Homo sapiens: one gene and its partner. The protein of the gene in region 2 purifies or fractionates together with the protein of the main gene of each other region. This does not show direct contact. Each region holds a gene or a part of one and is shown on either strand. Other genes may lie near its edges.

Region 1 (2,204 bases), on a different chromosome or scaffold from region 2:
ACCCCGCTTCCACTGGTGGCTGGTCTTCCTCATGGTGCTATGCAGGTGCCAAACACAGTTATATTCTCAAAGGTACAGGTCTTGTCTGGACATTGTTCAAACCAATAGCTACTGCGTTAGGCACACGGGAGATCCCTATTCCCAAAAATAGCTGTTGAGTTCTGGCCTGAGAGCATCTCCAGTGACCACCTTTAAATAAGGCTTTGGTTCAAACAGCATGGACCCAGCACCTGGGGAGGGTGGGCACAGGGGGCATGGACCCAGTACCTGGGGAGGGCGGGCATGGTGGTAGGAGACAACTCAACCACTGAGTCTTGGAGGTCCTGCCTTGGCCACGGAGGGCAGTGGCTGCCCTCACAAGAAGAGTTAAGGCACTTTCTTTAACTCTGGCCTAGGAGAATTATGTCTTAGTGACTCAGTGAGTTTAAATGACACTGCCTGGGCTCCCTAAAGTTGTTTACTTTTCTCCTATTTCCTGCTTTATTCCTTGCTCTCACCATGCTAATGTACAGATGTTGTTTAGATTTCTATGCTTATTGAAACAATGTAACTTTGGTACTAACAGAACAGGAGCGACCTTTTCCAGCATTGCTCGTAACAAAACAAAAATGTTAACTAGAAAAACTCCTTATGATGAAGAAATCTAAAGCCAGAGCTGGGACTCCAAACCCCTTCCAGGCTGGAAGACAGGTCGCTGAGTCCAGGCAAGGGGCCCCCGTAACTGCTTCCCGCCAGAAAGCCCAGCCGCGTGAGTGCAGCAGCAGCACCCCAGCCCTGGCGTGCCCGCACCACGCCCTCTAGATACTCTCCTAGCTCAGGCTGAACACGCCTGGATTGTGTCGGCCGGGACAGCCCCGTCAGGTGTGGGGCAGCTGACCCACGTCTGTGGTGAACATGCTCCTCCAAACTAGGACGGTGAAGGGCCCAGGGCGCTGGGAACTGCCAGGCGCTGACTCTCCTTCTGGGTTCTCACCAGCACCGGAACCCACCCCAGCCAATAGTCAGGAAGTGCCGCGGCCGAGCCTTCATCAACCCTAGTGAGTTTCCCACAGAACTGAATCCCTTTTCCCAAATTCAGCTGTGCATGAGCCCTTTTTGTTTGGTGCCCTGGAGCACTAGTGTAGTTCAATATTCTCTTCAGAAGGAAAACTCCAGCAGCCACCGGCCTGCAGGATGTGTGCTGAGCCCACATGACCTGAATGGACGGGTCATGTGGGAGGGGCCCTGGTGGGAGCTGTGGGCCACACGGCTGAGTTCTTCCAATACGGAAGCCCCGAGCTGGAGGCTCACACGCTGTGGGGCAGCCCAGAGTTGCTGGAAGCTTTACAGGGGTGCGTAGCTAATGGCGTCGGTGTCGCTCGGTCGCTGTGGAGGGGTACCCCCGCTATTGGGGCGGCTCCTCCCGGCATGCTCAGGTCTCAAAGTACTTGTAGATCGCCGTCACATACAGCATCACGTTCTGCCAGTCGGGTCGTTCAGTCCGTACCATTTCATTAATGTCCTGACAGACAAGGAAGACGCTTGGTTAGAACTGCAGGTCACCTCCAGGCTGTGCCAATGGGCTCTGCCATAGCAACATGGGCTCTTGGAGTTGGATGGGGCCTTGAAATATTTTCTAGGCCTAATTACACATTTTTAAAGCCTGGCCAAGAATGCTTCCTCCCTGGGCATCAGCATCGTCCCCAGGCCATCCACCCCTGCCCCAGAGCCACAGGCAAGGTGCCTCCCTGCTCACGGCTCTGCAGGATGGGAAGGGTTTCATCCAGTCTGGGCGGAGGAACTTCCTCCCTCCTCCCCGCGCCTGCCTCTCTTCTTAAACCACTCCTTGGGGGACCCTTCTGAGAGCCCTTCTCAGCCCCAGGCACTGGCCTAGGAGAATTTCTCTCTGTCGGGGGCTCCCAGAACCAACACTCTGACGGCCTTCACCATGGGCAACAGTCTGAAATCATCCAAGACTCTGCTCTGTAACTGTGCTCTGCTGAACGCCAGTGACCTGTGACCGGTGAACTGATGTTCTAGGAAAATAAACTTGGGAAACCGTGGACCCACCCCCACCTCACTCCAGTGTCTCACAGCCTTTAACACGAGACAGAAGGCCTCAAAAAGTGACACACTGCTGCTGCTGAAGGCTCGGGGAGTGACCCAAGGGGCCGGCCTGAGAGATCCTTCCCTTCCCATGGGTGACGAGCACAGGACGTGTGGCT
Region 2 (3,997 bases):
TGTGTCCCAGAAATGACATCATCGAGTCCCCAAAGCCTCCTGCTGCTTTGCAGAACTGGGAGAAAGTGCAGCCCCACAGGGGAATGAAAAGAACCCCATGAACACTCAGCGAATGGAAGAGAGAAGTTGGCAACTCTAACCCAGCACATTCCACAATTCATTGAGATGCAGTTCACCCGAGCCAAGGAACGATGCCCAGATAACCAGGAACACCCGACATTCCCGCCTCCCTCCTGGCAAAATGGTGGAGGCAAAGGACACACCTTAGGGGAATCCCAGCTGGACCCACAGGCGCCAGGGGCAGCTCTGCTGTGGGCTGCATGCTTGCTTATGACGGCGGTGATGATGGTGAGGTATTAATAAAAAGGAGCTTGAAATTCATCTGTTTCAAACATCTCCTTTTACAGGTGAATCAATGAAGTCTTGGGAGATGAAGTGATCTGGCTGATGTCACTCACTGTGAGTGTTGGGCCTGGGATCCGGATGAGACTTTGAGACTCTGGATGCAGAGCTCTTCGTAACTTACTGGAAGCTGACCAGCTCCTCAAAGTCACCTCCCATATACCACTCAGGAGGACAGGGCAGCCTTTCACGTCGGAAGTGGGAGAAGAGCCCCAAAGGTGGCGCTCTGGCTCAGGAATCAAAGGAATTGGGTCCCAGCCGCAGCCCCGGCACCAGCAAGCACAAAAGGCTTATCCTCCCAAGGATGCCCTGGGAGCCTCTGGGGGTCCCGCTGGGCTCCCTCACCTGGGCATGGGCCCTGAGAAGTGCTCCATTTCATCAACTTGGTATCTGCACTTCTTGGTAGGATTTTACCAAATAAAGAGTTCAGAGCTAAGTAAGTTTAAAACCACGGAATACATGGTCCTGCCCAGTACATTTAGCACCCATCATTTTGGCTATGGTGGCCGAGGTCTTGGGGTGCAGGGGTGATGGCTTTGCTTCTGTTCACCAATAGGGGGAGAGAGATACGCACTCTGACGCTGAAGAAGAAAGGGAAGGCCAGGTCAGGCTTTCCCCATCTCTCTTCTCCAACCTGCAGTCAGGTGGAAGTTCAAAGGGCCAGAACCAGAGTGTTCACAGGCCAGGGACGTCACTGGGCACGCACCTCATCTGCCACCCCCATAAGAGGACCAGCATACCCTGTCCTTGTGGGGCAGGGCTGCCATGGCAAGGGAATGCCCATGCAACTGCAAGGCCTGCTGGGAGGAGCTGGGGAGGGGGCTGGTTGGAGGGCGATGAGCAGCCTGCTACCCATTCATCTTACAGCCAGAGGGAAGAGCGATGGCAAGCACCACACTGCCTGGCTGCTTGTCCCCACAGGGCATGCTAACGACTCCCCCTCAGTCCCATGACCTCGCGGCTTCAGGGGTAGCTCAGAGACTTGCAGATGGAAAGACGGGTTTCCATTCTTCCTTCCCAGCACCCATCAAGGCGAAATCTCCCACTCTAGATCAAGGGCCAAGTCATCGAACTTCTCTGGGCCACCACTGTCTCCCTCTCACTTGGCGATGGAATCTGAGGGAACACCTGTAGGTAAAGCCAGGGAAGGGGCTAGGACAGCACAATGGGTTCTAGTCAACAATGGGGCTCTGGCCTTGGCGTGGGGAGGCCTGGGGGTGGCTACCGTGTGTGGCACAAATACCAAGGTGCAGCATCTTAGGGTGGGCTTCTAGTGAAGAAAGAGGGGATGTGGGTGCCTGGAGAGGGAGGGTGAGCACCTCCCCCTACCCGGTGCCAGGTGTAAACTCAATGCCATTGGCTCTGCTAGACTAACTGGAATCATCCACCGAGCATGGTATCACATCTCAACAATCTCCCAGTGCCAGAGTGCGAACCCAGGTCATCTCCAATGGCCTTCTTTCCTCGCTTGCAGACCTGGGTGTTCTATCAGCAGAGCGGCAACCAGGGAAGCTATGGCTCAGTTCTGCTTCCCCAGTTTTGGAAACTCCAGGAACAGGAATGCTAGGAGCTGTAGTCAGGAAGATCCCCCGCCCAACCCACCCATGCCTGCACTGCCCAGGACCTGCTGCAGAGGGATACCAGCAGCTTGCGGCCCTTGCTCTTCCAGAAGCCATTTTAGGCTGAGCAGGGAAGGAAGGAGGGCTCCTCTCCGCCTTGCCACCATCTTAATCCAGAGCCCCATAAAGCAAGACCGCCACTTCGCCACACTTACGCGGCCCCTCTATGTTCTCCTGCTCTCCCTTCCCCTTTCACACACAAATACGCTCCCCACACACTGCAGAACCACTGCCAGCTCTTTCACAACCAGCTTTTCCCATCAAATAGCTGCACGGCCTGAGGGTTGGCGGCCATCTCTCGGGACCCCCACCCTCCACCCACTGTGGACCTCCGAGACCCTGGCCGCAGGTGTTTCATCAGCTCCAGGACGGAACATCCAGGACTGCGAGAAAAGGAGGGAAGTGTGCGATTTGAGGAGCAGGTGAGGGCAACAGCTCGGGTTGGGGAATCTGCATCTCCTACCTCTGCCTCTCAGTCACTCTGTGCCCGCTACTGGCCAGAGTCCTGGGTCCTTGCCCATTCATCACACCCTGGCCCCACAATGCACAATCGCCTCTCCATGGAAGGTGTTTCCTTCAAGAAAAGCGGCCTTCGGTGTTTGTACTGTGAGGCCGACTGTTGTAAAACTCCACGCAGCCAGGATTCTATGTGACTCAGTCAGTTGCACAAACCCAAGTGCAGATGAGGGAAAGCAACTTCTTTCGATACAGGCCCCTCCTTTCCAGACCCAGGAAACTGCCGAGGACCTACCTGTGCTCTGCCCTGTCAACGCCTGAGGCTTAGTGCCTAGCACACCATTTTCATGTGGTTTGGGGGTGTCCTTTCCTAGTCCCTGACCAAAGCTAGTTCAAGGCCCCCAAAACACAGTCTTTATAACTGCCTCTGTATCCCTCTGGGCCTCTGTCCTCAGTCTCTGAATCCCAGGCTCCCTACTCTGGCCCCGGAGCTGGCAGCCAGCCCAAAGATCTGGGCAAGAAGGCCACGGGTGGGGGATGGGATCCCCGGTTTTCGAGAATGGGTCTAGACGGAATCTGGGGATCTGCCCACACCCCGGTAACTCCACCCAGCACCCCTACCCCAATCAGAGATCAGAGAGGAGGAAGGGGCAGTTAGACCCCAAAAGATCTGTTAGTCAAGAGACAGTGTTGAGCAGAGCTCTGGCTATCAACAGCTGGGCAGTGGGGGAGTTTAGGGTCGGGGGTCAGCTGTCCTTGGGCCAGAGAGAAAGAACTGGCTGACCCCTCCCCCACAGTGAATCATGATGAGAGAGGAAGGAGACAGCCGAGCCTGGGAGACAAAATGACAGGTCACTGGAGGACTGACCTCTCGGGCCCGGGCCAGACAGCAGAAGGGAAGGAAGCCAGAGTGACCACTATCCAAAAGGCAGCAGGGGTCCACAGGGGTCCTAAGAACCGCCCCCAGGGCTGCAGGAAGGATAACGGACTCTCCCACCAAGGGGCACAGGGCGCATGTGCACGCCATGAGGCCTGGCCTGCATCCAGGAGAACAGGACTACAGAAAACCAGCAAGGGGAAACCTGTGCCCTAGATGAACAGGCAGGGGGCCGGGAGGACTCCACACTCAAGCCTGCAAGTGCAGAACACACAGGTCCTGCTAGAAACACGTAAGGGCAGCCAGAAAAGGAAAGCCATCATATCCACTTTAGTCGGAACAGTTAAAATCAGGGTGAAAATCGGAGATGGTAGCATTTTCACAATTAGTGAAGGTCCAACCTACACTTCGGTTTACAAAGCACGTCCACGTGCATCACCTCTTTCTGATTTTAATTTTCCTAGCTGCTCTGAAAAGGCTGTAGGATGATGTATCAATAGGCTTGTTTTGGAGATGAAGAAGCTCGGGTTCAGAGAGGTTAAGCAGCCAATTAAAGGTCACTCACTGATATGCAGCAAAGCCTGACTTTTTGACTGTGAGCACAGGGCATATGCACTACATCGTACGTTATATAATCATCCGT

The links. Proteins that work in one complex are often made in the same cells at the same time.
Region 1: the proteins of CCND2 (region 2) and SPECC1L purify together in Homo sapiens (affinity purification with mass spectrometry; one large-scale study listed by BioGRID and IntAct). This does not show direct contact.

Annotation. Positions count from the first base shown.
Region 1 is NC_000022.11:24,413,831-24,416,034, reverse strand, and holds part of SPECC1L (cytospin-A), read right to left. Parts: intron 1,502-2,204; coding exon 1,412-1,501; 3' UTR 1-1,411. UniProt on the Homo sapiens protein: Involved in cytokinesis and spindle organization. May play a role in actin cytoskeleton organization and microtubule stabilization and hence required for proper cell adhesion and migration.
Region 2 is NC_000012.12:4,279,961-4,283,957, reverse strand, and holds part of CCND2 (G1/S-specific cyclin-D2), read right to left. Parts: intron 1-3,997. UniProt on the Homo sapiens protein: Regulatory component of the cyclin D2-CDK4 (DC) complex that phosphorylates and inhibits members of the retinoblastoma (RB) protein family including RB1 and regulates the cell-cycle during G(1)/S transition.